7 linked regions of the Homo sapiens genome follow. The protein of the gene in region 1 purifies or fractionates together with the protein of each later gene. This does not show direct contact. Each region holds a gene or a part of one and is shown in the gene's direction. Other genes may lie near its edges.

Region 1 (3,500 bases):
GTCAAGCTGGTCTTCAACTCCTGACCTCAGGTTATCTACCTGCCTCGGCCTCCCAAAGTGCTGGGATTACAGGCATGAGCCACCGAGCCTGGCCTCGGTTTTTCTTTTCTAATCTCAATGAGATTATAACAGATGTGCTATTCTTTGACATGCTTTGACTATCTTATTCTTTTGACTTTTTGAAACAGCTTTGTTGGGATATAATTGGTGTAAAATAAACAGTTCATGTTGAAAGGATACAGTTTGATAAGTGTTATATGTGTGCGCACCTTGAAACCATCACCACAAACAAGGTAGTGATCATATGCACTGAGCTGTTTTCCCTGCCTCCCAGGTCCTGTGGACCCCATGCCATTCCCAGGAAACCACTGACGTGCCTTCTGTCACTGTAGACTAGTTTGTATTTGTTAGAATTTTATATAAATGAAATCATACAGTATGTATTCCATTTTGTCTGACTGCTTTCACACAATAAAATTATTTTGAGGTTCATCTATAATGTTTCATGTTCAAAAGTTCATTTTTATTGCAGATCAATTAGGCATTATAGTTTCTTTATCCCCATACACCTGTTGATGAACTTTTGGATTGTTGCCAAGTTTTGGGTTTTTTGGCAATTATAAATAAAGCTGCTATCAACAATAGCATGCAAGTCCTTGGACATATATTTTGTTTTTTATTTCTCCTGGATAAACACCTAGGAGTAGAATCGTTGAGTTACATAACATGTATGTTTTACTACTTAAAAAGCTGCCAAACTCATTTTCAAAGTTGGCTTTATCATGTCACATTCCTGCCAACAGTGTATGAAAGTTCCAGTTGTTAAACATCCTCACCAACATTTGGTATGGTCAGTATTTTCATTTTAATAGGTATTAATATTTAGCGGTCTCATCGTGGCTTTAATTTGCATTTCCCTAATGACTAATAATCCTGAATATCTTTTCATGTACTTTTTTGCCATTCATGCATCTTTTTAAATGAAATGTCTTTTCAAATGTTCTTGCCCATTTTTGTATAGGGTTGTTTGTTTTCTCATTGAGTCCTCAGAGTTATTTATATATGAAGAATACAAGTCCTTTATCAGAAATTTGGCTTTCAAATATTTTTGCCAAGTCTTTTTAGTCTGTTAATATTTTCTATTAAAGAGGAGCAGTTCTTACTTAATTTTGATAAAATCCATTTTTTTTCCTTTTACAAATTGTGCTTTTGGGTACTATAGCTAAGAAATTTTTCGCCTAACCCCAGGACACAAAGATTTTATATATATATAATGGAGATGGGGTCTTGCTCTGTCACCAGACTAGAGTACAGTAGCGTGAGCATAGTTCATTGCAGCCTCCATCTCCTGGCCTCAAGTGATCCTCCTACCACCGTCGCCTAAAGTGCTGGGATTATAGGCATGAGCCACCACCACACCTGGCCACAAATGTGTTATTTAGTTTCCAAATAATTAGGGATTTTTCCAGAAGCTTTCTGTTATTCTAATATAACCTCAGTGTGGGCAGGGAATATAGTTTTTATGAATTGAATCTTTTGAAATTTATTGAAACTTATTTCATTGTCCAGAATATAGTCTATCACAGTAAATATTTCTTGTGCTCTTGAAAACAATGTATATTCTGCTATTATGGGTGGATTAGTTTATAATAGTTAGATCAAGTTAGTTAATAGTGTTGTTTAGGTATTCTATATCATAACTTATTTTCTGTCTACTTGCTCTATTATTGAGAAACGGATATTGGAATCTCTGACTATATTTGTGGATTTGTCTATTTCTCTTTGCATTTTCATCAATCTTGTTTTATGTATTTTGAAACACTGTTATTAGGTAAAAAAACATTAGGATTTTTATGTCCTATTTATGAAGGAAACAGTTTATCATTATGAAACTACTATATTTACTTCTAGTAATTTTTTTGATCTGTATCTATTCTGTCTAATAATATAGCCACTCTGGATTTCTTTTGATAAGCATTAATATGATAGTTTTTTTCCATCTGTTTAGTTTTAACATTTTGAGTCTTAACATTAAAAGTGAGTTTCCTGTAGGGAGAATATACTTGGATCTTGCTTTTTATCTAATTTAGCAGTCTCTGTTTTTTAGTTGTGATGTTTAGGCCAGAGATCCACAAACAACAGTCTATAGGCTGAATCCAGCATGTGGCTTGTTTCTGTATGGCCTGTGAGGTAAGAATAGTTTTTACATTTTTAAAGGGTTGAAAAAATCAGAAAGAAGCTAACCTAAAAAGCTTAACATATTTACTATCTGGCCCTTTACGGAAAAAGTTTGCCAAATGCTGGTTTAGACTATTTATATTTAATGTATGATTGATATGTCTGTGTTTAACCAGTAACACAACAAAGAAAACTATTTTTCTTTTTGTCTCATTTGTTACATTTTTTCCCTTTTTTCCTTTTTTGCTGCCTTCTTTTGGATTATTTTCTATTTCTTTATATCTCCTTGGCTAGTTTATTAGCTATAACTCTATATCGTGAAATTTTAGTGGTTGCTTTAGAATATGTAGTGTAAATTTTTTAACTGACCACAGTCTACCACTTCATATAGTCTAAGAGCCTTCCAACAATAGACTTCCATTTCTTGCCTTCGGTCCTTTGTGCTATTGTCATCCATTTTACCTATGCCTATATTATAAGCCACCCAGCACATTGTTATAATTTTTGATTTAATTGATTATCTTTGTAAATATTTAAAATTAAAAGTAAAGATTTTATAACTACTATATACTTCCCGCTTCTGGTGTTCATCATTCTTTTGTGTAGATTCAAGTTTCCTTCTGATGTCCTTTTTCTTCTGCTTGAAGAACTTTCTGTAGTGAAAATCTGTGATGTGTTCTCTCAGCTTGTGTATGACTGAAAATATTTTTATTTCTTCTTCATTTTTAAGATATTTTTGCTGGGTATAGAGTTCTCGGTTGACAGGGCTTCTTCTACCCCCAGTACTTTAAAGATGTTACTCTATTGTCTTCTAGTTTGCATTGCTTCCAACATGAAATCATCTGTAATCCTTATTATTATTCATTTGTACATAATATTTCTTTTTTCTCTCTCCTTGCTTTTAGGAAATTTTCTCTTTATCACTGGTTTTCAGCAGTGCGCTATTATAATCTATGTCATGTTTCTTGTGTTTGGGGTCCTTTGGGCTTCTTGGGTCTGTGGGTTTATAGTTTCATAAAATTTGGAAAATTTTTGGTTTTTTCAAATATTTTTTGCCTCACAATCCCTTCTTCCTTTTGAGTACTCTGATTACATGATTTAGCAGCTTGATATTGTCCACAGTTTACTGATGTTCTCTCTCTCTCTTTTTTTTCAGTTTTTTCTCTGTGCTTCATTTCTATTGTTTTGGTTTTTTTTAAATTCATTAGTCTGTTTTTCTGCAGTGTATAATCTGCTCTTACAACCATCCCGTATATTTTTCATCTCACATATTATAATTTTTATCACTAAAAATTTGATTTAGATCTTTAATGTCTTCCGTG
Region 2 (3,500 bases), on another chromosome or scaffold:
AGACGTGTACCACCACACCGGGCTAATTTTTGTATTTTTAGTAGAGACGTGGTTTCATCATGTTGACCAGGCTGGTCTCGAACTCCTGATCTCAGGTGATCCGCCTGCCTCAGCCTCCCACAGTGCTGGGATTACAGCCTCGAGCCACCGCGCCCAGCCTAAATTTTATTCATTATTTTATTTTATTTTTTTTTGGAGACAGAGTCTTGCTCTGTCACCCAGGCTATAGTGCAGTGGCATGATCTCACCTCAGCCTCCCCAAGTGCTGGGATTACAGGCTTGAGCCACCACGCCCAACCATAAATTTTATTTTATTTTTTTTTTATAGACAGGATCTCCCTCTGTCACCCAGGCTGCAGTACAGTGGCACAGTTACATAGCTCACTGCAGTCTCAAACTCCTGGGCTCAAGTGATCCTCCCACCTCAGCCTCCTGAATAGCTGGAACTGTAGGAATGCACAATTGTGCTTGGCTTATTTTGTTTATTATTTTTTGTAGACACAAGAGTATCACTGTATTACCCAGGCTGGTCTCAAACTCCTGGTCTCCAGCAGTCTTCTGACCTCAGCCTCCCAAAGTGCTGGGATTACAGGCATGAGCCACTGCGCCTTGCCTAAAATTTGCTTGATTTTTTATGGCTTTTTCCCCCCAGTATTTTTTATCTGTGTGTGATTGGTTGAATCTGCAGATGTGGAAACTGCAGATACGGAAGGCTAACTATATTTTGAATATAATTGTTTTTGTTTTTGTTTTTGAGATAGAATCTTGCTCTGTCACCCAGGCTGGAGTGCAGTGGCGAGATCTCAGCTCACAGCAGCCTCTACCTCCCAGGTTCAAACGATTCTCCTGTCTTAGCCGCCCAAGTAGCTGGGGCTACAGGTGCACACCACCATGCCCAATTAATTTTTATATTTTTAGTAGAGACGGGGTTTCACCATAATGGTCAGGCTGGTCTCAAACTCCTGACCTCAGGTGATCTACCCGCCTCAGCCTCCCAAATTTCTGGGATTACAGGTGTGAGCCATCACACCTGGCCTTGGTTTTGTTCTTGTTTGAGACATGGTCTCTCTCTGTTGCCCAGGCTGCAGTGCAGTGGCGTAATCTTGACTCACTGCAACCTCCACCCCTGTGTTCAAGCAGTTCTCTTGCCTCAGCCTCCCGAGTAGCTGGGATTACAGGTGCACGCCACCATGCCCAGCTAATTTTTGAATTTTTGGTAGAGATGGGGTTTCACCATGTTGGCCAGGCTGGTCTCGAACTCCTGACCTCAAGTAATCCATTCTCTTCGGCCTCCCAGAGTGCTGGGATTACAGGCATGAGCCACCATGCCCTGCCTCACAATTGAATTTTTATTATTGTCTGAGAATCACCACTGCGAAGGTTATTTTACTGGCTGTACCAGAATGAGGGAGAGAATGTTCAACTGGGTGATACCATTTGCCTCATCACTAGGTAGCCCATACTGTTATATTTTAAGGTTTTTGTTTTTCATAGTTTTCCTATCTTTGCCTTAACAGCAGTCAGTTGAAAGCCCACTGTTTAAAAGAAAGCCCACTGTTTAAAACTCACAGTTGTCAGTGTGTCTAGCTGTAAAGTCCCTTTCTGCCCCTTAATCTGCATGGATTTAGAAATTAGGTAAACAACTGCAGATTTTTTTTTTTTTTTTGGCGATGGGCTCTTACTCTGTCACCCGGGCTGGAATGCAGTGGCGCGATCTCAGCTCACTGCAACCTCCGCCTCCCAGGCTCCAGCAGTCCTCCCAACCTCCCCACCTCAGCCTCCCTAGTAGCTGGGACCACAGGCATGCACCACCACACCTGGCTAATTTTTGTATTTTTGATAGAGACGGGGTTTTGCCATGTTGGCCAGGCTGATCTCGAACTCCTGAGTTCAAGCAATCCAACTGCCTTGGCCTCCCAAAGTGCTAGGATTATAGGCATGAGCCACCACACCCGGTCTAGAATTCTTTCTTTTACAGCTTTTATTATTTTTTTCTGTAGCTATGATGAATATGTAGAATTGGTTCTTTTAAACAGTGGGCTCAGAATAAAGTTGAGTCTCCTAAAGACTACAGTCGTTGAGTTTAACATGGTATTTATGCTATTTACTTTTGTTGCCAAAAGGCTGTCTGCCTCATTTCTGAACTCACCAGGGTTATCAATAGTTGAAGTTATTGGATGAGTCAAATTCTGAGCAGATGGAAATGCTAGTGACAGGTAGTCAAAAAAAATAAAGTTAGTTAACATCTTCCATTGAGCAGATGAGGTCATTTTTCTTTGTGAATTGTAATTGTCTCTTTTGTGTGGGGGAATGGGGGAAGGATCTCTCAGTCTGTCTCCCAAGCTGGAGTGCAGTGGCATGCATAATCATGGCTCACTACAGCCTCAAACTCCTAGGCTCAAGCAATCCTCTCACCCCAGCCCCCCAAGTAGCAGAGGCTACAGGTACACATCCTGATGCCTAGCTACTTTTTTTTTTTTTTTTTTTTTTGGTAGAGATGGGGTCTTGCCATGTTGCCCAGGCTGTCCTCAAACTCTTGTACTCAAGTGATCCTCCTGCTTTGGCTTCCCATAGTGTTGAGATTACAGGCATGAGTCACAACCACACCCAGCCTATAATTCTCTTTTTTTTTTTTTTTGATTTTAAAAAAAAAAGTGACGAGGTCTCACTGTGTTGCCAGGCTGATCTTGAACTCTTGAGCTCAAGTGAACCTCCCACCTCAGCCTCCCGAAGTGTTAGGATTATAGGCATGAGCCACCACTCACAGCCTGTAATTCTCTTTATGTATATTTTACTTTGGAAAGTAACTGAAGGATTTGGGTTTAATCAAAGATGATTTGAATCTGTACACAATTGGGATATTTAAACTTTAAATAGTGTAGAATCCCACATCAAATCATTTTGGTTAGATACTATGGCTGTGGCAAACTGATTTAGCATATCACTTTCTCATAAATCATGCGAGAATCAGACTTCTCAAAATAGAAATGTGAACTAAAAGATTTTTTTAAGGTCCTGTCTTCTCTGTCCATTTCATTCATGTTAATCATCAATAAATTTACAGATTCCTGGGCATGGTGGTGCATGCCTGTAGTCCCAGCTACTCAGGAGGCTGAAGCAGGAAGATCTTGAGCCTAAGAGTTCAAGGCCAGCCTGGGCAACATAACAAGACTCTGTCTCTTTAAAAAATCTGATTAATTTACTAACTTCTTTCTAGCTATAAAATTATTTGTGATACTCTTAACCTTAATATTCATTACACAGAAGCATTAACAAGGATAATATCCTATTATATAGATACTTACATTCAAGTTGAAGTTAATCAGCAGATATTCTTTAGAACTTGTACTGGGCATTGTGAGAAAATACAGAGAAGCAGTAGACACAGTTCTTAACTCTGAGAAATGTAAATATGATTGAAGATTAAATATGAAATATGATTTTACATGCCAAAGAAGTCAGTAAATATAGCAAAAAAGAATTTAAGAATTGTAATGGCA
Region 3 (3,962 bases), on another chromosome or scaffold:
GCAGGCATGTTTATTACAGCGCTATGAGGGATTCATCCACTCCACATTCCCCATTGCCCTAGCCCCCTTTCGCCAACCCCCGTCCCTGCCAAATCAGGCCAATTTCTTTCTTTCCAGTTATTTGCTGAAAGTTCAACTTCTCTTAGAGCCTTCTAATTATGCGTATATCATATAGGCTGATAATTTTTAGTTTAGGCTGAGAAATGCAGCCTAAATCAGTCTGCCACATCAGATTGTGAACGTCTGGATGGTGTGGACCCCCTTCTCCTACTGCTTAAAAGACAATCTTGTTGTAAAACGCTATGGAATCGTTCCTCTCCCCTTAACATCTTTGTGCCCCAGAAGCCCCATCTGTAAATGGGGATAATTTTCCTATATCTTCCCATGGTTACGTAATTTTTAGATCTAACACGTGAGGACCAAACGCTTTACAAGCATAATCTCATTAAATTCTCAATAAGAATATATTATTATGGAGGTTGCATGTGAAAATACTTTGTAATGTAGAAAGAGCCGTCTGGCTGTGAGTTATTATCAGGGGGTTATCTTCCTTACCTGGCTGTTGTGAGGATGAAACGAGACGCCGACCTGAAAGCGTTTTACGTGCTATCAAGCATTTTACAGAAACCACGTGATAGGCTACTAATTACCCACCGTATACCACCTGACCCACCGTGAGGCCTCGGTAAATACTGGTTGGAGTGGACGAGTTTAAGTCTTGCCTGTTCCTTTCAGTCTTCCAATCACAAAGTAATCTCGGCGCCGCCAGGGGCCAAGACACAAATCTGGGAACCTCAGCCTAGATGGAGGAGGGTGCGGGGTCCCGGGAGAGGGGATGAGAACAATAGGGTACTTCAGTGCCCGGGCCCTGTTTAGCGGGTCTTCGGACTCAGGGCCCGAGGGGCGGCCAGCTGGGGTGTCCGGAGAGCTCCCCTCCCCAGGTCTGGGGTGTGCACGGAGAGGCGTCCAGAGCCTGCTCAGCATTCCTCGGGAGAGAGCCAGACCCTGGTCCCCCGGGCCCGTGCGCCCCAGCGCCCCAGCTCCCTTGCTCACGCCACCCCGGCAGCGTCCAAGCCCCGCCCGCCAGCTCAGGTAGGCCGTCCGCGCCAGCCAATTCGCAACAAGTCCGGGCGGGGAAGGCGGTGCTTCCCTGTCCGGAAGTGACGTGCTGCGCTTGGCTGGCTGTGGAGTCGGCCGAAGCTTTCGGCGGCGGCTGAGCCAGCTGAGGGGAAAAATGGCTCGGACTGTGGCGGCTTCGGCGGCTCAGGTTGTGGTAGAGGCGGAGGCTCAGGCAGCTTGAGGTGAGGAGCGGTCGGTGCGGCTGGGGACGATATTCGGGGTCCTGCTCTGCAAGGGTGGAGAGGGGCCCCGGGGTTCCCGGGCTGGAAGGGTCTCTTGTCGCGGCCCCCAGTGCCTTGGGTGCCCGCGTCTGACCCTCCATCCCGTGCTCTTGGCGTTGCCCAGCCCGACTCCCCCCTCCCTCCGGGCCTTGCTTCCACCCAGGCCGTGAGCAAGTGCTGCGCTGGAGGTGCGAGGAGCCCGCGTCCCCACCAGGCCCCTCTTCTCGGGAGCGGAGGTGCGCCAGGGAGTTAGTTTTGTCCCACAGAAGGAGGGCAGGCCCCCCGGCCGCCGGCCCCCCTCCCCCGCCTTGTCCCGCGGGACCGGGCTGGAGCCGCAGTGGCCGGTCCTATTTTCTTGGCAGATTGTTAGTTCTGGCGAGTGTGTGTGTTGTACTTCTCAGTGACGGCCCCTTCTTTCACCTCCTGTCCCATCTCTGGCTCTGGGGGCCAAGGATACTTTTTCTTCTTCCCGGACCCCCCACTCCCACCGCGTTGCCTTTAGCCGCGAATCCACTTGCTTTGGGAACACTATTCTTTCAGTGTGTATTTAGCGCATCATCCTTCTGAGAGAGCGGTCAGATTAAAAAATACTAGCTTAACTCTTCCTGAGTGACGGAGGAATCATAAATAATTGAAGAAAAAGGCACATACTTATTTTCCTCACTGAATTTCTGGCTTTAAAAACGACATTCTCTAGCTGTGGAATTATTTTTTGGGGGAGGAGGGATTGAGGAGGGAAATGAGGAAGGAGAAACTAAGGAAAAAAGTCTGGACATAACGTGGAAGAGAGAGCCTGTTGTAGTTCTTTTCCTATACTGGCCCGATAGAAATTGAGGTTATAATTATATTCTTATTTTGAACAGTGGGGGTTTGAATTAAGTGAAACGAAGGAGGCCTGCCTCTTTGAACAAGATTAGTTATTAAAGAATGTCCTGAAATCTTTCCTGGTGGGTTTCAGGCAGAAAAGCTCTGTTGGGAAAATTTTTAAATCTATTGTAGCATCAAAGGCCACAGCATATAAGAGATGCAAGAAGAAGAAAGCTGTTTGTAGGGGAACGGTGAAGACATAGTAGAAAGAGGGAAGGCTGCACAGAAGTCCAGGAACTAATTCCAGGAGAGACTTTGTACCTTTGCCTCCTTGGCTTGTGGTTCAAGTCTCCACAAGAGACTCCTTTAGCAGCTCTGCCATAGTTGGGGTTGGTGCTCTTTTTTTTTTTTTTAATTGACATGGGGTCTCACTGTGTCGCCCAGGCTGGTCTACCATGCCCAGCAGAATGGTGCTTTTTTTTTTTTTAAATTTGATCTAACCTTATCTGGACAGGATGGTGCTCTTATTCACAGCAGCAAATTAGACGAAAGGACCCTAGTTGAAGTATACAGATTTTATTTTTATATAAGATATTTGTTTAGTATCAAGACAGTGGTTACATACTGAAAAACAATGTAACTGGGAATAGAGAGATTTTATTTGTTAACTCAGATTTAGTTCAAAAGTGATTTTACGTAGGTAGAAAGCACATATGGAGTTTCTTCCATAAATTCCGTAATTTTGGCTGAATTAATACATTCTAAAGTAGGTTTTTTCTTATCAAAGTGTCTTGCTATTTGTGTTTTATATGCGTGTTTCCTGCAGTTTTCTTTGCAAATAACATGTTTTAATGTTTTCATCACAGGTTTTACAATTTTTTTCTGTTTGAATCTCGCTCTGTCGCCTAGGCTGGAGTGCAGTGGCACGAGAGCTCACTGCAACCTCCACCTCCAGGGTTCAAGTGATTCTCCTGCCTCAGCCTCCTGAGTAGCTGGAATTACAGGCACGCGCCACCACACATGGCTCATTTTTGTGTTTTTTCAATAGAGACTGGTTTACACTATGTTGACCAGGCTAGTCTCGAACTCCTGACCTCAAGTGATCTGCCCGTCTTGGCCTCCCAAAGTGCTGGGATTAAAGACTTGAGCCACTGCACCTGGCAGTTTTTTCTGTTTTATAGAATACAAAAGCTGGCATGTTTGCATTGAGGAATTTTAGAAACTAACTTTTTGTAATGAATAACTGTATACTAAGTTTGTTTCTTCTGCAATTAATAGTTCTAAAATTTTCAATTAATTGAAGATTGCTTGCATTAATTCCCATGTCCAGGACTCTTTCTGTAGCACAAAGTTTTGCATTTAAGTAAGCACATTCAATAAGTGAACTTATACCTAAAGAGTGTTGAATTTCCTGAGAACTCAGAGTTCTTATAGAGCATCAGAGCAGCAGTAGTGCAAAGCATTTTTTGTAACTTGTTTTTCTTTGATAACATGAATTATTCTTTTTTTTTTTTTTTTTTTTTTTTTTGAGATGGAGTCTCACTCTGTTGACGAGGCTGGAGTGCAGTGGCACGATCTTGGCTCACTGCAACCTCCACCTGCCGGGTTCAAGTGACTCTCCTGCCTCAGCCTCCCGAGGAGCTGGGACTACAGGCGTGTGCCGCTATGCCCAGCTAATTTTTGTATTTTTAGTAGAGACGGGGTTTCACCATGTTGGTTGGCCAGGATGGTCTTGAGCTCTTGGCCTTGTGATCTGCCCACCTCGGCCTCCCAAAGTGCTGGGATTACAGGCTTGAGCTACCCTGCCCGGCTCTT
Region 4 (3,500 bases), on another chromosome or scaffold:
ATTCAGTAACTGTTGGTTGAAGTACATCTTCATTGGAACACTGGCCACATAGTGTCCCTTTGAGCACCATCCTTTGGTTTTCCAGGACGCCTGCACACCCTTCACGGATATTGGTTTCTTCTGGTCTGGCATTAGATGTAGGCGCGTTCTTCCTTTGGAGATTCTTAGAAGAAGGAGGCCAGGTGAGGGGTAGGGGTAGGGGCAGGGACAGAGCAAAGTGAGAGATGCAGGAGGAGTAGCGGGAGTGAGGAGAGCGCAGGAGGAAAAGCAGAGCAGGGTGTGGAGAACAACGGGGGAGGAGGCACAGCGGGCGGCAGCGAGTAACACTGAGTGGGCAGGGCAGGGCAGCGGTGAGGAGGAGCAGCGCCTTGGGGAAGGAAGAAAATGTCCTATTTCCTTGAGAAGGTCCCCAACAAATTCACTTTGCTCCTTCTTTTTTGTTTTAGCCTTTGCTCTTGACCCTTCTTAAACTTTCTTGATTCTTCTCCTTCTTTTTCCTCATCTGTACTTTTTGCTCCTTGTTTCTTAGCTATTCTGGGATCTGAAGCAAATTCTAATTCTAAAACTTAATATTGGAAATAAACTTGTAAAACTACTTTATTTTTCTGTTTACTAAGGCCCAACTATTGGCCTCATTGCATTTTATATTTTATCAATGAAGTTGACTTTGGCCTTAAATAAAAGCTAAACGTTTGAAGTTATAAAAACAAGTGCTGTGGCCGAGCATGTGGGACATGCCCATAGTCCCAGCTGCTCAGGAGGCTGAGGCGGGAGGATTGCTTGAGTCCAGTAGTTTGAATCTAGCCTGGGCAACACAGCAAGATCCTGTCTCTTAAAAATGAAATAAAAACCAGAAACAAGTGCTAAGATTATTTGTTAATACAGTGTTTAATCATACTTTTAAATATTAACAATAAACTGATTTTATTAAAATTTATAGAAAGCTTTCTAGTAACAGCATTATAAGGTCACAGCTTTTGTTAATCTGTGTTATGTAGAATTCTTTTAAAAGAATTTGATGTTTTGATGACTTTTTAAATGGTTAGTGTACATATATATTTCCTAAGCTGATGTTTATGCCTTTTTTCTTCTTATTTGAATTTTTAAATTATTTTTTTTCTGTCTTCACAGTCACAAACTCGCAGAACCCCAAGTCTTTCGAGTCTCAATTCCCAGGATTCCAGTATTGAAATTTCAAAGCTTACTGATAAGGTGCAGGCCGAGTATAGAGATGCCTATAGAGAATACATTGCTCAGATGTCCCAGTTAGAAGGGGGCCCCGGGTCTACAACCATTAGTGGCAGATCTTCTCCACATAGCACATATTACATGGGTCAGAGTTCATCAGGGGGCTCTATTCATTCAAACCTAGAGCAAGAAAAGGGGAAGGATAGTGAACCAAAGCCCGATGATGGGAGGAAGTCCTTTCTAATGAAGAGGGGAGATGTTATCGATTATTCATCATCAGGGGTTTCCACCAACGATGCTTCCCCCCTGGATCCTATCACTGAAGAAGATGAAAAATCAGATCAGTCAGGCAGTAAGCTTCTCCCAGGCAAGAAATCTTCCGAAAGGTCAAGCCTCTTCCAGACAGATTTGAAGCTTAAGGGAAGTGGGCTGCGCTATCAAAAACTCCCAAGTGACGAGGATGAATCTGGCACAGAAGAATCAGATAACACTCCACTGCTCAAAGATGACAAAGACAGAAAAGCCGAAGGGAAAGTAGAGAGAGTGCCGAAGTCTCCAGAACACAGTGCTGAGCCGATCAGAACCTTCATTAAAGCCAAAGAGTATTTATCGGATGCGCTCCTTGACAAAAAGGATTCATCGGATTCAGGAGTGAGATCCAGTGAAAGTTCTCCCAATCACTCTCTGCACAATGAAGTGGCGGATGACTCCCAGCTTGAAAAGGCAAATCTCATAGAGCTGGAAGATGACAGTCACAGCGGAAAGCGGGGAATCCCACATAGCCTGAGTGGCCTGCAAGATCCAATTATAGCTCGGATGTCCATTTGTTCAGAAGACAAGAAAAGCCCTTCCGAATGCAGCTTGATAGCCAGCAGCCCTGAAGAAAACTGGCCTGCATGCCAGAAAGCCTACAACCTGAACCGAACTCCCAGCACCGTGACTCTGAACAACAATAGTGCTCCAGCCAACAGAGCCAATCAAAATTTCGATGAGATGGAGGGAATTAGGGAGACTTCTCAAGTCATTTTGAGGCCTAGTTCCAGTCCCAACCCAACCACTATTCAGAATGAGAATCTAAAAAGCATGACACATAAGCGAAGCCAACGTTCAAGTTACACAAGGCTCTCCAAAGATCCTCCGGAGCTCCATGCAGCAGCCTCTTCTGAGAGCACAGGCTTTGGAGAAGAAAGAGAAAGCATTCTTTGAGAAAAACAAGCAAAGGAGAAGAGTGTTACTGTACCTTTATGACAGAATTGTCCTGGATTTTGACTCCATCCACGCCCATCACCTTTCTACATTTTGCTGACAGATAACTAACCGATGATGAGGCCGAGGTAAAAGAGACATCTGCAGTGTGACAGAAGGGAGCATGAGAAGCATGGCTCACCAGCCAGCCTCTGTGGTCTTTGTAATTAGAAGCTTCAGAACTCACTAATACTACTGTACCTTTCATTGGCGCATTACCCCATAAAACTTTTTGAGACGAGGTGAGATCTGAGTATAAAGATAGGTCAGAAGTATTTTAAAGGGCTTAATGTGCCAAAAAGAAAAAAAGCTAGAGACCCTTTTTGCAAACATTTGGTGACCACACATTTGAGGGAAGACGTGGCGTTAGGTGAAGCAGAAGCAAACCCTGCTCTTAGGGGCTCACCTAGGTGAGTGCACAGCCTGTGACGCTACAGGGAGAGGCTGAGTAAACCGAGATCCAGCGTTCTGTATGGCAGGGGTATTGCTTATCACAGAGGTTCTGAAGAGTAGGAAGTACATAATGAAGAGGGCTTTAAAAATTGCCAACAAAGTGAGTCACCAGGGCTGGCAGTAGTGTGACGGGGCTGTCCTGAGCTGTTAGGAGAGTAGATGCGGGGAGGGCTGGTGACCTCCGTGGGTTTATATGTCGGAAACTCTTCTCTCCAAATCCCAGGCCTGGCTTCCAGCACCATCCAGCTGTGCCCAAGAAGCCACCCTGGTCTGTTCTCCAACTCTTTTAAATGGTGCCCAACTTTTCTAAGTGAGCTTAGCAATGAGAAGAAAAAAAAACATGAATTCTTTTTCTGGAAAATCAGGGAGACATGGGTAATAATAGGTACTAATAAATATTTATAGATGAGTGAATGAGGAAATAATTACATCAAAAAGGTCAGTGACAATTGATAAATGACAAGGAAATATTTAATTAGGTAAAACTAAATCATTGCTCTCTATACTAGGATAGACTTTATCTACTTCATCTGTTCCTAAGTCAGCATGTTAGTTCTGGGGAAGGATCATAAGAAAGGAAATACTTTTTAAAAAAAAATTTGGAAACATGTAAC
Region 5 (3,500 bases), on another chromosome or scaffold:
AAAACTCCTGAGCTCAGGTGATCCACCAGCCTCAGGCTCCCAAAGTGCTGGGATTACAGGTGTGAGCCATCGCATCTGGCTATAAGCACTTTATTATAAGAGCATTTTATAAAAGAACAAAGATACCTGACATTAATTCTTCCCTTAGGGAATTATTGAGATAATATGTAAAAATCATAGCCCATAAGTAGTCATCAACTTCTTAGCCTTTTCTATGTACTTGATAAACTCACTCAGCCATTAAAAATAATTCCTTTGGTGGTGGAGGTGGTACTAAGTAAGGCGGAAGTGTGTAATTCTGAATTAGTCATGTTAGTTACCGCCCGATAAATATTAGCGGATGATTTACACAGTGAAGACAGTTTAAATACAGCAAGTTCAGCATCACTACGTTGTTTCAACATACATCATTTACATTATAATCCTGCAGTGTGTTTTAGTAATTTTCACTTTTCAATGGTTTCTGCTAATTATACTACAAGAGAAAAAAATTTAAACCCTTGACAAACAGGAAATAATATTTGTGAATATATTTGTGTTCCCATCTCAGTATTTTTAATACTGAGATAAATATACTGAGATTTTTAATATTTTTAATTTTTAATACTGAGATAAAATATACTAGTATTTTCTCGTTTGAGGTAATAATTTAAATGACATCCTGTCTTTTGCAGAGTGAAATGGTAAAGGAGCTGGATGGTCATGTGCTCAAATGTGTGAAAGATCAGAATGGAAACCATGTTGTACAAAAATGTATCGAATGTGTTCAGCCACAGTCACTACAGTTCATCATTGATGCTTTCAAGGGACAAGTATGTTTGAGTTTTGGCTTATAATTTGTTAGCAGGGCATTATTTTAGAATTTTGAATATCAACACGTTTTTCATGAGTCACTAGATAATACCCAGCAATTGTATACAAAAATAGGATACAAAACAGTAAATGTACATTAATTTCTTCCTCTTTCATAGTCAGTAGATAGCTTCATTTTTCTGAAGCTGCAAAACAAATAGTTTAATCACATTACTTTAAGAAGTAAAGGTAATCACTGTTAGAATTGTTTTTTATTTATACCCAACGATGTTTTCAGGTTTACTCAGAGAAGGGAAGGAGGTTTGGAGAAAGACATAAGACTGTATAATAAGACAGAAAACACATAGCAATTTGTAACTAATACATAGTAATTAATATTTCTTAATGCTGAACTACCCTTTCTCTTTTCACCCATTCATTCCCATTGTTACATAACCTCAGGTTCAGGTAAAGTTCTGGTTAGGTTCCTTTTGATCAAAATATCTTCAGCTCCTAAATGGAGTGCTCCCTGTCCCCACTCTCCAGTCTTTTCTAACATGGTGGTAGTCATATTAAATGTGAGTTCATCACCCTTCTATTTCAAACTGCTTTTAGGTGTTGTCAAAAAAAAAAAAAACAAACCAGTCTGCTTCATAGAACTGTTCAAAAATGTCAGAGAATACAAATTTTAATTCTTCTAATTGTCCTCAGGTATTTGTGCTTTCAACTCATCCTTATGGCTGCAGAGTAATTCAGCGCATCCTAGAGCATTGCACTGCAGAACAGACCTTACCTATCTTAGAAGAACTCCACCAACATACAGAGCAGTTGGTACAGGTATAAATTCCCTAATAATTTGAAATGTTTATATATTTTTGGAAATTGTTTTAATTTTTAAAAGAAATACAATTTGTTACTAAACACACTATAGACAAGAGTGAGACAAAAGGCTGTTGTATTCTCCTAACTATCCTACTGGATTTTTAGATGAAATGATTAACATGTCTTTAAAGAATATCATTCTTAAGGAATGACTTAGGGAAAGTAATTTTTAAATATCTGTCTTAGGATCAGTATGGCAATTATGTTATTCAGCATGTACTGGAACACGGTCGACCTGAAGACAAGAGCAAAATTGTTTCCGAAATCAGGGGAAAGGTTTTAGCCCTGAGTCAACACAAATTTGCCAGGTATTGTAATACTTTGTAATTTTAAGGGTCAATTCTTTCAACTCATTGACTTTTATTAGTTATCACAGAAATACGTGTAGCATGTAGCATTAAACTGTAGTCTTTTTTTTTTGGTATCATTAAAATGCACCTATAGAACATTGCTTTTGTTTTTTAAAAAAATCTACATAACAAATTTGTTTTGCCCACATATGTTCATTTATGAAATCTGTATTTGGAAAATAATTACTCCCGACACTGGAAATGCAGATTTATTTAGTACATGTTTCTTGAAAACCTCACAGCTTTAATGATCTGGTTTCCTTTTTTTTGAAGTACAATTTTAAGAGACCTGTAATTAAACTTGTGGATGTCAAAATGATGTAGGTTGTTCCAAGATACCAATTTCTGTTATAAAAGTAATTGGCTGGGTACAGTGTCTCACACGTGTAATCCCAGCCAGCACTTTGGGAGATCAAGGCAGGAGGATCAGTCGAGCCCAGGAATTCGAGATCAGCCTGGACAACATAGAGGGAGATCCTTTCTCTACAAAAAATTATCCAGGCGTGGTGGCGCATGCCTGTAGTCTCAGCTATGGGGGAGGCTGAGGTGGGAGAATCACTTCAGCAAGGGAGGTCAAGGCTGCAGTGAGCGGTGATAGCATCACTGCACTCCAGCCCGGGTGACAGAACAAGACCCTGTCTCAAAAAAAAAAAGAACAAAATAAAATAAAAGTAATCATAAGACAAGAGAATCCCATCCTGACTTCTGTTTTATTGTTCATTGGAGAAGATTCTTTCTATAAGTCAAGGAAATTTTGCTGTGAAGAAAAAAATAACAAATCTTTGTTTATCTGCTTTAATTTTTAGCAATGTAGTAGAAAAGTGTGTTACTCATGCCTCCCGTGCTGAGAGAGCTTTACTGATTGACGAGGTTTGCTGCCAGAATGATGGTCCTCACAGTGCCTTATACACCATGATGAAGGACCAGTATGCCAATTACGTGGTTCAAAAGATGATTGATATGGCTGAACCTGCTCAGAGAAAGATAATCATGCACAAGGTAATACAGCATGTAACACTCAGATAACTGTTTGTCTTTGTGTTTAGGCTACACATTTAACCTCCTTGGGCTTTCATTTCCTCCCGTATGTTATAACTGGAGGAAAAATTAAAATCGATGGATATCCTTTGGCAGATATATTGGTATGGTTTCCATTTTTATGCTTAAGGTTATCATGGCCAGGCATGGGGGCTTTTGCCCATAATTCCAGCAGATTGGGAGGCTGAGGTGACAAGATCACTTGAGCCCAGGAGTTTGAGACCAGCCTGAGCAATGTGGCAAGACCCTCCCTCTACAAAAAAAAAAAAAGAAAAACAATTAGACAAGCATCATGGTGCAACCCTTTAGTCCCAGCTACTTGGGAGGCTGTGGTGGGAGACCACTTGAGCCCAGGAGTTCAAGACCAGTCTGGACAACATAGACCCCCATCTCTACAAAAAATTTAAAAATTAGCTGGGTATGACGATACATGCCTGT
Region 6 (2,755 bases), on another chromosome or scaffold:
ATGGCTCTCAGGAACCTCTGGCAGCCTTGTTGGAGGAAGTCATAACAGATGCCAAACTCTCCAACAAAGAGAAAAAGAAGAAACTGAAGCAGGTAAAAGGATATTCTTTATAAGCCATTTTTTCTCCTCCCTACTGTTTTTATGTTTTTTTTTTTATTTTAATAGGCTTCATGTAAATCTCATCTTCTGAGCCATAGCAGTTTTCTAAGTATATTAGTTCATACATTCTAGAAGTCTCACTGATTTACACACTTGTGGTCAGTATCCTAGATCTTTATTCTTCAGTGTAAATCTGTTACCATTGCCAAACTCTTCATTTTTGGAGCTATTCTCTAATATTTGTCCTTTGTTTTGGTATGTGGCATGATGTGAATTAGCAGAGCATCTGCTTTAATCTCAGAGAAGCTATCAGTGAGGGTGGATTTCTTTTCATGTTTTCAAAAGGCAAATCAGATGGAATTCACAGGTGTAAAATGTTTAGAGTTTAAAAGCCGTTGGTTTTAGATAGCCACTATCAAATTAGTTTCTTGCCTCAGGTATCAGTACAAGTTTTTAGTTCCTCTTATGTTAGGGAACACAGCTTAGGGTTCCAGCGAATCGTTTTTAACTCACAATATGTTACTTTTGACTATTCATAAAGGTTGATCCATGATCAGGTGAGTGGTTTTTGTTTTTAAAGACTGAACTCTACATAGTTGGATTCAGGGAACACCGTACATGTGGGATTACACACAGAGCACCAGAGTTCTGGGCTTCTGATCATATTATTCTCAGAGTAATTTTGGAGGAGAGTTTAGTGGTAAAGATCAACAGAAAGTATACTGCCTCTCTTTTAAGCTTTTCACAAAGTAATATACACCAGAATATTCCCTCTTCCATTTGAGCAGAAGCTGGTGGGGCTGAGTTGGAGAAACAGAGAAATGATGAAATGTAATTGGGCCAAAATTTTATTTAACTGTGTAGAACAGAAGTTATTTTGAAGTCAGAGTTACTTGTGAATATATAAAAAGTGAGGTCTATTTATAGTTGGCAGTGGGGGGAATTTTCAGAAACATGATTAAAAGGGGAACTTATTTGAAGCTTAGATCAAAGGAAAGATGGATTAGCTCTATAGAAATTGGAATGAAATGTTTTAACAAAAATAAACAAAAACAGGAAAATACAGGCTCAGAAACTCTTAAAATTTGGCTGCCAAATTTTATTGGCTTTTATGTGTCTTTTTTTACTCTTCTTGGACCATTCATTTTTTTAGTTTCAGAAATCCTATCCTGAAGTCTATCAAGAACGATTTCCTACACCAGAAAGTGCAGCACTTCTGTTTCCTGAAAAACCCAAACCGAAACCACAGCTGCTAATGTGGGCACTAAAGAAGCCTTTCCAACCATTTCAAAGAACTAGAAGTTTTCGAATGTAATAATACTTCCACAGCAACAGGTGCTAGAGACCACTGTTGTTGTTTTGAGTGAATGGTGGTTAGGAGAAAGACTTTGGTGGTGGAAGAAAGAAAAGCATAAAACAAAGACTACTGAAATATAGATAAAGATTGCCTTAGTTTTTAAAAATGTTTGGCCATTAGTATTTTTATAAAACTCAATGCTAGTTTTAAAGTGTATAAATTGGTTAAAATTTATGAGTCAAATATATAGTGATAATGTTAACATGTTTGTAATTGCTACAGAATTTAAGGGTATTTTTATCTCTGTGCTTTCTTTTTCATGGTGTTTATTAAATAATTGTGTATATACATCCTAGCTACTGATATCTTTATTATAGCCTTAAGACTTAATTTTAAGTCTTAAAAATAGCGTGTATACTTGAATAAGAAAGACACTGGGTACTGTTACTGTGATGCTATTGACTTAGTAGCCAATTATCATTTCTCCTGTATAAATTCCAGTTTTTATTGCTGCACATAAATTTTTTAATGTCTTATATTGTGATAGCTATGTCTTTTATTGCAGATTTATTGGATGTTATGACAGATTTTACTAAAGCTAGTGTTTTTATAACATATATATTAGTTGATGTTTACCTATAAGTGGAGTAGATTTTCATCTGCCTGCAATGGTATAATTTCAGTCTTAGCTAAAAATGGAAAGTTGAACTGGATAAATTCTTTGGGTACCCTTAGACCTCTGATTCTAAGTCAAATGCAAATGGGTTAAATAAAATGAGACTACTTCCTTTATAAATATATTTTCATCCTTTTGAAAGTAAGTGAAATGTAAATAAACTTATTTTTTTTAAAAATGCCATACCTCGTGTTTCTTTTTTGGCATTTATTTAGATCAGTTAGAGAGCATCCTCAAATGCCTTTGCCAATGGTCTTCATCAGTCATTTATTTCTATGAGAAAATGAAAAGTAAGATTTGGGCTTTTGTACTGACTGGTCTTTAGGTGAGCACTTTGCCAATTTTTTAGCATTGCTTTGTCCTTTTGTAAAATTGTGGTGCACTTGGATTATGGAGCATCTGAAAGTCTTCCTCTGAGCGCAATTACCCAGAAAGCTGAGAGCAACACCCACTAATTGGCTTACAGTACTCCTTGGACTGATTTTTCCTTGCACTTAAGATTTGCTCCTGTTCTCTTGTAGCAAAATACCTCCTACATCTGATGCAGATTTTGCTTTTAAAAATGGACCAAAGTATTCCTATTGGTTTGGGTACCACCTTACATTCCAAATACATAATGTAATGGGAGATTTTTAGTGTTTCAGGATTCATTCTCAGACTTTGGCATTCTGTTTAGAGCCAAG
Region 7 (3,192 bases), on another chromosome or scaffold:
AGCCATAATCTTATTGCTAGCTGCTTTTAGCAAAAGTCTTTTCTTGAAACCACCACCTATACTCTTTAAACAAATAAAAACTAAAATCTCTTGCTAATGTTTCAGGAAGATTTATTTTTTCTATTTTGCTATTGTGGCGAAAATTATTTTCAGTTATAGGATACTTTTTTCCTTCTGAAAAGTAATAAGCTTAAAGTTTTTGTTTCTGTAAGATGTAATGATAGTAACTATTATTTTGGGCATATTAACCAACAGAACAATTATGTAGTATGTATATCACTTTCTCATTAGATCTCTAACTTGACCTTCTAGTACCTTTATGTGTGAGGATAAATTTGTTAGATCCTTTTATTCTCAATCTTGGATAATGATGCAAAATGGAATTTTGTTTTGTTTGTTGGTAGATTCACATACTAAAACTTTGCAGGTAAAGTTGCTTGCCTCATGTTAGAATTTAATTAGAAAACTGAGGCTGCCTTTTTTTTTTTTTTTTTTTTTTTTTAAGACAGAGTCTTGTTCTGTCGCCCAGGCCAGTTTTTTTTTTCTTGTACAGATGGGGTTTTACCATGTTGCTCAGGCTGGTCTCAAACTCCTGGAGTCAAGGGATCTATTTGCCTCAGCCTCTCAAAGTGCTGGGATTACAGGTGTGAGCCACGGCTCCTGGCTCCTTGCTCCAGAATCAGTTTTTTAATGGAAGATAGCTCATACTTTGTTTTTGTTTTTAAAGAGACAGGGTCTCACTCTGTTGCCCAGGCTGGTAGTAGCGTGATCATAGCTCACTGCAGTCTCAAACTCCTGGACTCAAATAGTGCTCTGGAGTACCTAGAACTACAAGTGCCTACCACCACACCCAGCTAATTTATTTGTTTTTTTTTTTTTAGAGATGGGGGGGGTCTCCCTATGTTGCCCAGGCTGGTCTCAAACTCTTCACCTCAAGCAAAACTCCCACTGCAGAAAGCTTTGGGATTACAGGCATGAGCCACCATGCCAAGCCCATACTTATTGTTAATAAAGTTTCAGTGACTTGCTTACTAATCTTATGCAAAATTTCATGTAATTTATGTAATACTACATAACAATGCTACATATGGTATGTATACATACACTGTATACACACAAAGGTCTGTTCTGGGTATTTTATGTATCTTATCTCTAGGCTTTATGGCTCTGAAATGGAGGGAACTGGACATAAATGTTTCAAGGAATAAAGTGAATGTTTTGTTTGTTTGTTTGTTTTGAGACGGAGTCTCAGTCACCAGGCTGGAGTGCAGTGCTGTGATCTCAGCTCACTGCAACCTCTGCCTCCTGGGTTCAAGCGATTCTCCTGCCTCAGCCTCCCGAGTAGCTGGCATTACAGGTGCCTGCCACCATGTCCAGCTAATTTTTGTGTTTTTAGTAGAGATGGGGTTTCACCATGATGGTCAGGCTGGTCTCGAACTCCTGACCTCATGATCCGCCAGCCTCAGCCTCCCATAGTGCTGGGATTATAGGCATGAGCCATGCTCCCGGCCAAAGTGAATGTTTTGGGTGAAGTTTATATAAGGATTTGACTTTTGTATCATTATTAAAGTTTCTGTCAGGTAATACAGTGTTGGCCCTCTGTTGAAATAAAATGTTACATATCGCTGGGTGTAGTGGCTCATGCCTTTAATCCCAGTACTTTGGGAGGCCAAGGCAGGAGGATTGCTTGAGCTCAGAAGTTTGAGACCAGCCTGGGCAACATAGCAAAACCTTGTCACTATAAAAAATACAAAAATTAGCCAGGCGTGGTGGTGCACGCCTGTAGTCTCAGCTACTCAGTCGGCTGAGGTGGGAAGATGGCTTCAAGCCGGGAGATGGAGGCTTCAGTGACCTGTGACCTGTGATCACACCACTTAATTCCTCAAAACATTTATGTCCCAGTTCCCTCCATTTCAGAGCCATGGGCAACAGAGCGAGACCCTGTCTCAAAAAAAAAATTACATATAAGCCCGGTTTAAAGAGAGGATAATATGCAACCACCCTAGTTGAAACAGAGTGTATCACTTCTTTCTCACCCTAAATTTAATGCCTAGTTTGAAAATCAGTAGACAATAATAAAGTTGATAAGCTTTAGGTTGGTAGGAAAGCTATGTAATCTATATAGTGTACTAAATCCTTATATGTTTTTGGTAAAAAAAGACTTTAATAGCTAATTTGGACTTCAGAAAATGGGTTAATTTCACGAGTGCATATCACTTTTGACTATATTAGTCAAGCATATTATTAAAGTTTAAAAAACTCTAAAACTTCTGTACTGTTTTTTTCTTAAGTGCTCTCTTCCTTATTTCTACATTACTACATTCACATTTCTGCTGTCAATAAGCCCTAATGGAGTGATAAACTTTAAGCTAGTAGATACTGCACCATGTCTTGTGGTGGTGTTTTCTTAATGAAATGGAAGCTGTACTTCCTGTTTGTTTTTAAATACTTTTGAAACAGACAGTTCATGTACCCCATCATTTAGAGATGCAGTTTGAATTTCCATGGAAAAAGGTGCCAATTTTGGATTGGGAAAGGAGCTGAAGCCCCAGTCAAGACTTTGCCATTTGGGGTAATGCAGCAGATTCCTGTGTCTGTATCTTTCCAGTGTGTGTGTTAATCCATAGTGTTCTGAGCACCAGAAGGGTCATGTAAATCTGAAGTTGTTATTAAAGGTTTTTCTATAGTGAAAGATGTCTTTTCTGATTCATTCTTGTATGTTACTTTCCTGAATTGCTATTCCCTCTGCCCCCTGCAAGTCCTTGTCTGATCACTGGTACCAATACTTTGTTTAGTATGAGTTGTATTAGCATTAACTTAAAAATTTTTAGGCCGGGCGCAGTAGCTCACGCCTGTAATCCCAGCACTTTGGGAGGTTGAGGTGGGTGGATCACAAGGTCAGGAGTTCGAGACCAGCCTGGCCAATATGGTGAAACCTCGTCTTTACTAAAAATACAAAAAAATTAGCCAGGCATGGTGGCACATATCTGTAATCCCAGCTACTTGGGAGGCTGAGGCAGGAGAATTGCTTGAATCCGGGAGGCAGAGGTTGCATTGAGCCGAGATCGCGCCACTGCACTCCAGCCTGGGTAACAGAGCGAGATTCCATCTCAAAAAAAAATTTTTTTTTAACTTAAAAATATACAAAAAAGGCAAAATACTGCACATGTAAATGTGATAAATATATTTGGA

What was found.
Region 2: the proteins of BACE2 (region 1) and PAPOLG purify together in Homo sapiens (affinity purification with mass spectrometry; one large-scale study listed by BioGRID and IntAct). This does not show direct contact.
Region 3: the proteins of BACE2 (region 1) and PIK3C2A purify together in Homo sapiens (affinity purification with mass spectrometry; one large-scale study listed by BioGRID and IntAct). This does not show direct contact.
Region 4: the proteins of BACE2 (region 1) and KIDINS220 purify together in Homo sapiens (affinity purification with mass spectrometry; one large-scale study listed by BioGRID and IntAct). This does not show direct contact.
Region 5: the proteins of BACE2 (region 1) and PUM2 purify together in Homo sapiens (affinity purification with mass spectrometry; one large-scale study listed by BioGRID and IntAct). This does not show direct contact.
Region 6: the proteins of BACE2 (region 1) and DEPDC1B purify together in Homo sapiens (affinity purification with mass spectrometry; one large-scale study listed by BioGRID and IntAct). This does not show direct contact.
Region 7: the proteins of BACE2 (region 1) and SOAT1 purify together in Homo sapiens (affinity purification with mass spectrometry; one large-scale study listed by BioGRID and IntAct). This does not show direct contact.

The regions. Positions count from the first base shown.
Region 1 is NC_000021.9:41,269,160-41,272,659, forward strand, and holds part of BACE2 (beta-secretase 2 isoform A preproprotein), read left to right. Parts: intron 1-3,500. UniProt on the Homo sapiens protein: Responsible for the proteolytic processing of the amyloid precursor protein (APP).
Region 2 is NC_000002.12:60,762,768-60,766,267, forward strand, and holds part of PAPOLG (poly(A) polymerase gamma), read left to right. Parts: intron 1-3,500. UniProt on the Homo sapiens protein: Responsible for the post-transcriptional adenylation of the 3'-terminal of mRNA precursors and several small RNAs including signal recognition particle (SRP) RNA, nuclear 7SK RNA, U2 small nuclear RNA, and ribosomal 5S RNA.
Region 3 is NC_000011.10:17,205,187-17,209,148, reverse strand, and holds the start of PIK3C2A (phosphatidylinositol 4-phosphate 3-kinase C2 domain-containing subunit alpha), read left to right. Parts: upstream 1-1,162; 5' UTR 1,163-1,301; intron 1,302-3,962.
Region 4 is NC_000002.12:8,729,614-8,733,113, reverse strand, and holds part of KIDINS220 (kinase D-interacting substrate of 220 kDa), read left to right. Parts: intron 1-1,131; coding exon 1,132-2,394; 3' UTR 2,395-3,500. UniProt on the Homo sapiens protein: Promotes a prolonged MAP-kinase signaling by neurotrophins through activation of a Rap1-dependent mechanism. Provides a docking site for the CRKL-C3G complex, resulting in Rap1-dependent sustained ERK activation.
Region 5 is NC_000002.12:20,253,345-20,256,844, reverse strand, and holds part of PUM2 (pumilio homolog 2), read left to right. Parts: intron 1-674; coding exon 675-812; intron 813-1,503; coding exon 1,504-1,629; intron 1,630-1,860; coding exon 1,861-1,982; intron 1,983-2,830; coding exon 2,831-3,023; intron 3,024-3,500. UniProt on the Homo sapiens protein: Sequence-specific RNA-binding protein that acts as a post-transcriptional repressor by binding the 3'-UTR of mRNA targets.
Region 6 is NC_000005.10:60,596,412-60,599,166, reverse strand, and holds the end of DEPDC1B (DEP domain-containing protein 1B), read left to right. Parts: coding exon 1-92; intron 93-1,252; coding exon 1,253-1,414; 3' UTR 1,415-2,255; downstream 2,256-2,755.
Region 7 is NC_000001.11:179,355,989-179,359,180, forward strand, and holds the end of SOAT1 (sterol O-acyltransferase 1), read left to right. Parts: 3' UTR 1-2,692; downstream 2,693-3,192.